Homo sapiens: one gene and its partners. The protein of the gene in region 1 purifies or fractionates together with the protein of each later gene. This does not show direct contact. Each region holds a gene or a part of one and is shown in the gene's direction. Other genes may lie near its edges.

The links.
Region 2: the proteins of ORC5 (region 1) and DDR1 purify together in Homo sapiens (co-immunoprecipitation; one large-scale study listed by IntAct). This does not show direct contact.
Region 3: the proteins of ORC5 (region 1) and LRWD1 purify together in Homo sapiens (affinity purification with mass spectrometry; 4 studies listed by BioGRID and IntAct, with this or other methods). This does not show direct contact.

The regions. Positions count from the first base shown.
Region 1 is NC_000007.14:104,166,414-104,170,066, reverse strand, and holds part of ORC5 (origin recognition complex subunit 5), read left to right. Parts: intron 1-1,541; coding exon 1,542-1,594; coding exon of another isoform or gene 1,595-1,692; exon of another isoform or gene 1,693-1,878; intron 1,879-3,182; coding exon 3,183-3,295; intron 3,296-3,653. UniProt on the Homo sapiens protein: Component of the origin recognition complex (ORC) that binds origins of replication. DNA-binding is ATP-dependent. The specific DNA sequences that define origins of replication have not been identified yet.
Region 2 is NC_000006.12:30,894,371-30,897,592, forward strand, and holds part of DDR1 (epithelial discoidin domain-containing receptor 1 isoform 2 precursor), read left to right. Parts: intron 1-135; coding exon 136-301; intron 302-1,033; coding exon 1,034-1,144; intron 1,145-2,250; coding exon 2,251-2,495; intron 2,496-2,643; coding exon 2,644-2,771; intron 2,772-2,990; coding exon of another isoform or gene 2,991-3,008; coding exon 3,009-3,222. UniProt on the Homo sapiens protein: Tyrosine kinase that functions as a cell surface receptor for fibrillar collagen and regulates cell attachment to the extracellular matrix, remodeling of the extracellular matrix, cell migration, differentiation, survival and cell proliferation.
Region 3 is NC_000007.14:102,467,918-102,470,912, forward strand, and holds part of LRWD1 (leucine-rich repeat and WD repeat-containing protein 1), read left to right. Parts: intron 1-144; coding exon 145-270; intron 271-345; coding exon 346-460; intron 461-636; coding exon 637-737; intron 738-937; coding exon 938-1,145; intron 1,146-1,656; coding exon 1,657-1,729; intron 1,730-1,824; coding exon 1,825-1,965; intron 1,966-2,995. UniProt on the Homo sapiens protein: Required for G1/S transition. Recruits and stabilizes the origin recognition complex (ORC) onto chromatin during G1 to establish pre-replication complex (preRC) and to heterochromatic sites in post-replicated cells.

The DNA.
Region 1 (3,653 bases):
ATTGAACTATCAAGGCTAGAGAAAAACAATATTAAACATGGAAGAACTCAGAGAACACTACTCATAAGACATTTCTTAGGACGACCTTGATGTGAAAAAGAGATGACTGGAGAAACTAACAAAAGGATTGATGATGAACATTGAATTTAATTAAGCTTAGCTCCAAACTAAAATTAAGGTGGAAATAAGAGTAGAAGAATAGTATGTAAATATTATGTATTCTGACAAGGTAGGAATATTACAACTTAAAAATTGGGAAAAGAAGGAAAAGAGAAAGGGGAAAATTAAACTTGTTGATTGCTATACAGGTGAGAGATGGGCATCAAAGAATACTTCAAAAGCTAAAACTACTTTTTTTAAAGTATACTCAAAGAAGGCCCACACTCATCCTTATCACTTCCACCCTGTTCTTCATGCAGATTTTGGATATTTAATTGTTCTAATCTGGCATTATTTTTAAATTAGCCCTGTAAATTAGCTCATTTTTAAGAGTTCTGTGAGAGTTTTAGAGTTGGTGAGCACCTTTGCATCAAACTGCCTTATTTTTTTTTATGAGTAAACTATTCATTTTTTCGAAGTCATGCAGCTAAAACTGTCGTAGGGCATTCTTTACTCATTATACTATAGTGTGTTGCCTTATAAATTCAATTTGTCGTGTCATAATCACTTCATATTCTTAATAGTGTTTTGGTTGTTTAACAGTTTTAATTGCAAATAAGTCCAGGATGGGGCAATTAAAATACCTTGAACTCTGCAAGCATCCTACAAGGATTCGACTCGTAGCTCTAGTATTGACTGGCTAAATGTCCTTGGGTGACTTAATCTTTGAGCCTCAGTTTTCTGGTGTGATACCTACTTTGAGGGATTGCTATAGAGTTTAGAAATAGTATATGACAATTGCATCTAATACGGTAACTAGAACATTGGGAGTTTTACCGAGTGGTAGGTGGTAGTATTTATTGGTTTTTTGTTTGTTGTTGTTTTTTTTAAAGACAGGCTCACTCTCGCCCAGGCTGGAGTGCAGTGGCACAATCTCAGCTCACTGCAACGTCCACCTCCCAGGTTCAAGTGATTCTCGTGCCTCAGCCACCCAAGTAGCTGGGAGTATAGGCATGCGCCACCATACCCAGCTAATTTTTGTATTTTTAATAGAGATGGGGTTTCCCCATGTTGCCTAGGCTGAGCTTGAACTCCTGGCCTCATGTGATCCTCCTATCTTGGCCTCCCAAAGTGCTGGGATTACAGGCATGAGCCACCACACCCGGCCTGGGTGAAGTTTTTTGATAGCTACAACAGTCATCATAGTAAAAGAGATTATTAAAATAGTTAATATCTAGGTATTGCTTTATAAATTTATGACATTCTAATATATACATTAAATTATTTTGTACAGGTACAAACATGTTTATTGCATGTATATATTTTTCTTTTCTGTTTTGTTAATAAATAAAAAAATTTAGTTTTTCTAGGGCTCTGTTTTAAGTACACCATATTGATTTTATTTATTTTTAATTCATTTTTGCTCTTCTATTTTTTTTCAGTTCCCAGTGGGAAAAGCTACAGAAAGATGACACAGATCCGGGGCAACTGAAAGGTATCAGAGGAAGTATTGAGACAGTTACCGGAGATACTTCTTCAGCTAATTATCAAGATACTAAAGTTAATACTAAAGAGCATTCAGTCAGGAAATAGTGTTATAAAAGAGAATTTACTTTTCAAGCTATAATGCTATTTTGATTAATGATTTTTCTTTAACTGAAGCTCTAATTTAATGGGAGGAAATAAAAGTTTGAATACCAGCTTTCTATTTTCTAAATATTGGATTATATCATGAAAATCAAGCAGTTTCTATTTCTTTAAATGCTTTTATTAAAGCAATCTAATTATGTGACAGTTTTATCTCATTATGTTTATATTTCATGAGTTTTATGGAATAAAATGTAATTTTATGTTAATCGGTTTGGGATATGCACTTTGGTGGTTATGTTTTGAAAACATTGTGCTTTTGTTTAAGAAAACTACTACTTTGGATTCATCCCAAATATTAAATAGAACTAATTTTACTTAAAAAAATGAGCAAATATTGAAAAAAAATTTTTTTTTAAAAGTCAGTGGCTGATGGTTAAAGAAAATGGTATGAAATAGTGCTGTTTTGTGTTTTTTTGGTTTTTATGTGTTCCAGATGCTTTACAAGTGACTTCTAGTTGTGTGTTTTTAGGAAAAGGGATAGATGCCAGAGTTAGAACAAATCTGTAATAATTGATTTGCACTACTTTCTATCTGTTTGACCTTGAACCCAGCTCAATTTTTCACTTGTGAGATAGGAAGAATATTTAGCATTACTGCAAAGATTCAAAGTGATGCTTAAGTAAAGCACCTAACACAGTGTCTGACACATAGTAGATTTTCAGTAAATATCAGATTCCTTCCCTTCCCTTAAGAATCAGTGCTACTTGAATGACCCTACTGTTTTAATATTTATCCATTCATCAGTTATTTTCTATGTGCAAGGCAGTGTAGGGATACAAAAAAACATTAGACATAGCTCCTTCAACAAATAGTATTGTTTACTAAGGGGTATGATTTATGTACAGGTTAAGCATTCTGAATCCAAAACTTCCAAATAGAAAATGCTCCAAAATTTTCTGAGTGCTGACATAAGCTCAGAGGAAATGCTTGTTTTCTTTGATTTTTCAGAATTTAGGGATGTTCAACTGGCATATACAAGTATTCTAACATCTGAAAAAATCCAAAACACTTCTGGTCCCAAGCATTTCAGATAAAGTATACTCAACCTGTACAGTTAACTGTTAATATAAGGCATCACGTTATGTGGGAATACTCAGAGTAGGAATTCATAGTAGAAATAAGTTTCTCTATTTTGGTGTGGTAGGGGAACACCAGGGGTTTAATGGAGAGCGTGGCCTTGAAGAGAAGAACGAGTAGGATTTAGACTTCAGAATGAGAAGAGCCAAGCAAAAATAATAGATTGAGTAAAGCCTGTCATTAATAATAGTGTTGATCACCACCACGACCATCATTATCATGACACTTTTTAAAATAAGGAAATAGGTCATTTTGACTAGAGAATACCATATGGAAATGAAAAGTCAAGTGAGAAGAGATACTTAAAACCCAATGTTAGCCTAATAAGTACTTCATCAAAGTGTTTTGTTATATAGGCCTCTCAGCGCATACTCATGTGGAACTTCCATATTACTCTAAGTTCATTCTAATTGCTGCATACCTTGCTTCATACAATCCAGCAAGAACTGACAAGAGGTTTTTTCTTAAGGTAATAATAACATACTTCTTTTCACTTTATTTTTTAAGATCCCAGGAATATTTTGAAATTTCTTAACACTTGTAAATTTCTAAGGGGAAGAGATTAGAATAAGATTGCCAAATATGTATTTAGGACTCATTCTTTAAAGGCTTTACATTAATGTCACAACCTCAAATTTGAGAAAAGGTAGGCAGTTTCATAGAAAAGAGGATATCAGGTATACCTTAGGTAATAATTCAGATTTAAAAAATACATAGGGTTTTGTTTAAAGTGTGGAGGATGGAAATAATTTTAAGAGCGGTAACTCTTTGTTGTTCTAAAACTCACTGTAGTGAATAATTATCCATCACACTGAAGGAGCCTCTCC
Region 2 (3,222 bases), on another chromosome or scaffold:
AAGATGGTGCTGATAGTATCCACAGCTGTAGGGCTCTTGTGAGGGCTGAGGGAGGGAACGCAGGGATGGACACAGCAGAGGGCCAGGCCGTGTGTGCTGAGCAACACGGGTGATGCCTCCCATCCCTATGACAAGGCTGAACGGAGGGTGTTGGAAGAGGAGCTGACGGTTCACCTCTCTGTCCCTGGGGACACTATCCTCATCAACAACCGCCCAGGTCCTAGAGAGCCACCCCCGTACCAGGAGCCCCGGCCTCGTGGGAATCCGCCCCACTCCGCTCCCTGTGTCCCCAATGGCTCTGGTAAGACCTGCCTTGTTCCAGTCGCACCTCTGTCCTCTCTGCTGTTTTCTTATTGTATCCCTTTCCCATTCTCTTTTTTTCCTGTCTTCCCCAGTTTCCACTTGTTTTCTTCTTTCTGTGCCCCTGGTTACTGTCTATATCACTCTTTGTCCCTACCATGTAGTCTCTCTCAAGAGTTCCCCATGTATTACCCATAGTCCCCCGTGGTGCTATCTTGTCTGTGTCCCACAGACATCTCTCTATCTTTGTTGTACCCTCTCATTGTGTCTCCCTGGCCCCTTTGCTTTGTATTAGACTCACCATGTTTGTTCCTTCATCTATCCTCCATCACCCATCCTTCCATCCATAGTCATACATCCTTGCATCCATCCATCAATCTTCCATCATCTGTCTTTCTATCTATATTCATAAATCTATTCATCCATCCATCCACCCACCCATATCCATCATCCATCTATCCATCTATATTCACACATCCATCTTTCCATCTGTTATCCATCCATCCAACAAAACATCTGTTTACCATCCATCCATCTATTCATACGTCCCATCTGTCCATGCATTCATTATCCAGCCAGCCGTCCGTCACTCTGCAGATCCTTGTTTTATCCTGTCTGTCTCTTAATGCAATCATCCCATCAGCCCTGGTCTTGCCCTATTCAAGGTCTCCCTGTCTGTCTAGCCTTGAGTCTCATCCCTTCCCCGTGTTTCCCCTCCTCCTTCTCCCGACAGCGTTGCTGCTCTCCAATCCAGCCTACCGCCTCCTTCTGGCCACTTACGCCCGTCCCCCTCGAGGCCCGGGCCCCCCCACACCCGCCTGGGCCAAACCCACCAACACCCAGGGTAAGCCCCTCTGCCCCTGGGCTCCGCCAGGCTCCCCATACCTCTACTGGGGCAGGGAAAAGCCCTCACACCTTGCACTTCCTCCTCTCCCCACTGTGGCCTATTCTGCTCTCCTGAGCTCCCAAGGAGGAAGCTCTTGTGCCCTTAGCTCATCTCTGCTGCTGCTTGCTCTTTTTTAAGGTCCCCCCCTTGAGCTGAGGAGTAGAAAGCTTACTGGTCCCCAGCTCTTCTCCCTCCTCCTCTTCCACGCCATCTCTTCAGCTCTCCAGAGCTAGACAGGAGGTTGCTGTGGTGGCCCCAGACTATAGTAACTCCTCCTTTATTCTCCACTCTCTCTAGAGCTGCGAGGAGGAGGGCTCTCACCCCGGGCGCTTGCCCTTTCCCTCACATGTGTCCTCTCTCTGCAGTCCCAGAGGTGAAGGCTCATGCCCCAACCCTTTCCATCTGCCCCTCTTCTCCTCAGTGTTGCCTTCTCATTGTGGCCCCTTCCCCAGGGCTAAGAGGGGACAGCTCTGCTTCCTCTCCTGTCTGTAGACAACTTGTGTTGGGGCTGTGAGCAGCTGTTACCCTCCCTCCTCTCTGTGTGCCTCTGTCTCTGCTTGTTGTTGAGCTTGGTGTGTTGGGTTGAAAGGGTTGGGAGGGCTTGGCCCCAGGGGGAGCCAGGCTGAAAGCCACGGGAGAGCAGCTAAGTGAAGGGGAGGGAGCTGTGGTGAACGGGACAAGGGTTTGGAAGGTGGAGGGTGCCTGGATGCTGGGACCATCCTGAGGCGGGAGAATTCCTGGGGAGGAATTCTTCTTCCAGCCAAGATTTATCTCACAGTCTCTTGAGAGACCCTAGGGAGGCCCTAAAAGAGTAAGACTTTATGACAGTTTTGCTCAACCATATTCATTGCCTTGAAAAGCTCTGGAATAGCTAACTCTCGTCCCATGCCAGTGTCTTCCTGGTTTGAGGTTGGCGCATGGAATACTGGGAAGATACAGCATAGACCCAGTCTCTCACTCAACCGGGAGACACAGGGCCCTCCGGGAGGCTGAGGTGTGGGGAACTATAGCTCTTGGGCTGTTCCTGATGCCTCGTCCTGTCTTCTTTCCCCTCACCCCTGCAGCCTACAGTGGGGACTATATGGAGCCTGAGAAGCCAGGCGCCCCGCTTCTGCCCCCACCTCCCCAGAACAGCGTCCCCCATTATGCCGAGGCTGACATTGTTACCCTGCAGGGCGTCACCGGGGGCAACACCTATGCTGTGCCTGCACTGCCCCCAGGGGCAGTCGGGGATGGGCCCCCCAGAGTGGATTTCCCTCGATCTCGACTCCGCTTCAAGGAGAAGCTTGGCGAGGGCCAGTTTGGGGAGGTAAGGAGGGTGCCTACCCAGTGTCTGGCCCTATTGTGTGCTCTGATGCCATGCCTGCGCATCCCCCTAGCCAGGAACCTTAGTCATTTGTAACCGTGTTAATCCGTTTGACCCTGTGACCGCCTAGCAAACGAACTTCTTTCTCCAGGTGCACCTGTGTGAGGTCGACAGCCCTCAAGATCTGGTTAGTCTTGATTTCCCCCTTAATGTGCGTAAGGGACACCCTTTGCTGGTAGCTGTCAAGATCTTACGGCCAGATGCCACCAAGAATGCCAGGTGAGGACCAGGGATGGCATCTGGAAGAAGGGAGGGGAGGCCGTGAAGAGTGGGGAGCCATCTAGAGAGAACAATGGCAGAGCCCAACAGAGGGGTGGCATCTCTGGGAGGGGATTTACATGTACGCTGGGGGTGGGGACGCCTGGTCTGCCTGAGGTGGGGCAGGGGGGTGGGGGCGCGGGGGAAGGTGCAGGCCGCCCACTCGGCATTCCTCTTCAGCTTCTCCTTGTTCTCCAGGAATGATTTCCTGAAAGAGGTGAAGATCATGTCGAGGCTCAAGGACCCAAACATCATTCGGCTGCTGGGCGTGTGTGTGCAGGACGACCCCCTCTGCATGATTACTGACTACATGGAGAACGGCGACCTCAACCAGTTCCTCAGTGCCCACCAGCTGGAGGACAAGGCAGCCGAGGGGGCCCCTGGGGACGGGCAGGCTGCGCAGGGGCCCACC
Region 3 (2,995 bases), 1.7 Mb from region 1:
GCACCCCAGGTCCTGGCTCACTCCCTAGGTGACCCCGGGCCAGCCTGGGCCTCCTGCATCCGCAGTGAGGTGGGGTCCAGCCTGTGATGGGGAGGAAGGAAGCCCCAGGCAGACAGGCCCATGGTCACAAGGCCCCCTCCACAGGCCAGACTGGCGGCCTTGAAACGGCCAGACGACGTCCCACTCAGCCTCTCTCCCAGCAAGCGGGCGTGTGCCTCCCCGTCGGCCCAGGTGGAGGGCAGCCCTGTGGCAGGCTCCGATGGCAGCCAGGTGAGCTGAGGTGGCAAGGAGCAGGTGGCAGATGAGTCGGGGCTGGGCAGCTGTGACCCTTCTCTCCCCCCACAGCCTGCTGTGAAGCTGGAGCCCCTGCACTTCCTGCAGTGCCACAGCAAGAACAACAGCCCCCAGGACCTCGAGACCCAGCTGTGGGCCTGTGCCTTCGAGCCGGCCTGGGAGGAGGGTACATGGTGGCGGGCAGGCGGGGCAAGGGCCGCTGGAAATAGGGCCGCCTGGATGGGTGGGGGATCAGGAGACAGAGCTTAAAAGGCGCCATCAAGGCTGGGAGGAGGAGGCTGCAGGGAGGACCTAGATGGGAAATGTCTCTGCTCATCCGACCTCTCAAAACCGGGCACTCAGGGGCCACATCCCAGACCGTGGCCACGTGCGGCGGGGAGGCTGTGTGCGTAATTGATTGCCAGACGGGCATCGTGCTCCACAAGTACAAGGCACCCGGCGAGGTGAGTGCAAGGCCCTGTCCCTGCTGGGCAAGGGTGCCCGACTGACTCCTGAACAGCAGCATGGGGATGGATGCAGGCTCGGCCCCCTGCCCCATGGCCTTTTTCTTTCATGCTGGGGCTCCCTCCCCCAGGCCCGGGCTACCCGCGTGTTCACACCAATAGCTCTGCCCCAGTGACTGTTTACTCTAACCCCCGCCCAGGAGTTCTTTTCTGTGGCCTGGACCGCTCTGATGGTGGTCACACAGGCTGGCCACAAGAAGCGCTGGAGTGTGCTGGCGGCTGCAGGCCTACGGGGCCTGGTCCGGCTGCTGCACGTGCGTGCCGGCTTCTGCTGCGGGGTCATCCGAGCCCACAAGAAGGCCATCGCCACCCTGTGCTTCAGCCCCGCCCACGAGACCCATCTCTTCAGTAAGCCCCTCCCCTTCACCCCTGGGACCCCCAAGCACCCCTGTCCTGCTGCCCCAGTAGCCTCCACGCTCCCCTCCCTGGGATGGCTGTGAGCTCGGGCGCCTGCCGGGCCCCAGTCTGCACCGCTCCGACTCTAGCTTTGGCAGGAAGCCATGTCGCTTCAACCCTGGCTTTATCCACAGCCTGCTCTGTGGCCTCGGAGTTTTCCAACAGCCTGGGCCACTCTGTCCCCTGTCAGTGACCTGGGGGGATGCCCCTGCCCCCGGGTGTGGCGCCCCTGTCAAGGGGGATGGATGAGCCACAGGAAGTGGCCGCTGGAGCCACCGCATCAGGTTAGATGGAGGAAACAGGGATTGGGGGCCCAGGAGTGTTCCTGTCTCCTAGCCTCGGCCCGCCCTCCCCGCCTCGGAGGGGCTGGCCTTGGGACCGTGGGCTCAGCCTGGGATGCAGCCAGCAGGAGGGAGCAGGGTCATCTCAGGGCCACTTCTCCCCTACCCCACCCCCTCTTCAGCGGCCTCCTATGACAAGCGGATCATCCTCTGGGACATCGGGGTGCCCAACCAGGACTACGAATTCCAGGCCAGGTGATGCTTCGGGTGAGGCTGGGGAGTGGCCAGCTGCTGGGGCAGGGACACCTCGGTCTGGGTCTGATGCTCTGTTCCCCCTTGCCCACTGGCAGCCAGCTGCTCACACTGGACACCACCTCTATCCCCCTGCGCCTCTGCCCTGTCGCCTCCTGCCCGGACGCCCGCCTGCTGGCCGGCTGCGAGGGCGGCTGCTGCTGCTGGGACGTGCGGCTGGACCAGCCCCAAAAGAGGAGGTGAGGCTGGGCAGGGGGCGCCTTGGAAGCCAGGCCTCTGCAGAGGGTGGCTGTTGGCCCAGATGGGCTCACAGCAGCCTGGGCACACCCGGGTAACCATAAGGGTTGTTTTTAGAGGCCTCTTCGCAGAGCTGGCTTGTCCCACCTTTCTGCCAGGCTCTGGAGGAAAGGACTCTGACCCTGCTCTCACCCTGGGTTCAGCTGTGGGACTGGGCCATGATGACCTCCCCTTCACCTGGGGCTTCAGCACCATGCTGTGCCCACGTGATCCAGCCCACTCCTGCCACTCATCAGCAGTGTGATGGTCCTCTGTGCTGGCATAATGTCCTCATCTGTAAAGAGGGGCCGATGGCTAGCGGAGGGCAGGTGAGGTGGTGTCTGGGCAGGCAGGCTTTGGAAGTGCCACGTTGAGGCTTTCTGGCTCATCTGTCCCACCTGGAAGGCCTCTGAGACAGGGCTTGGCAAGGGGTCCCTGTCCTCTTGGGGCCCCCAGCCTACTGGGGAAGACAGATGCTCAGCAAAGGTGGCCAATCAAAATCCCACAGTGTGATGCCAGCTACGAAGGAGACGGAAAAAGAGTAACGGGCAGAGGGACACTAGCGTGGGGGCCTCAGGGGACTCTGCTGAGGTGACCAGCGGCAGATGGATATTCTGGGGCTCACGCTTTCCTCCCTGGGAGCCTGGTGAGGGAGTCAGCGGGCGGAGGGTGGGGAGGTGCTTGCATGGAGGAAATGGTACGTGCAAAGGTCAGTGGCAGGGGAGCCAGCTGGCCTGCTCCACCATGTGGCCACAGCTGGGTGGACCCAGCCCAGAACAAGGTGGCAAGGGTGCCTGGGCGGGGCACGCCGGGCTTCGTCAGCCACGGTAAGCTTTGCATTTCTATTTATTTACTTTTTATTTGAGATAGAGTCTCCCTCTTGTCACCCAGGCTGGAGTACAGTGGCTCGATCTCGGCTCACTGCAACCTCTGCCGCCAGGTTCCAAGTGATCCTCCTGCCTCAGCCTCCCGAGTAGCTGGGATTACAGGCGC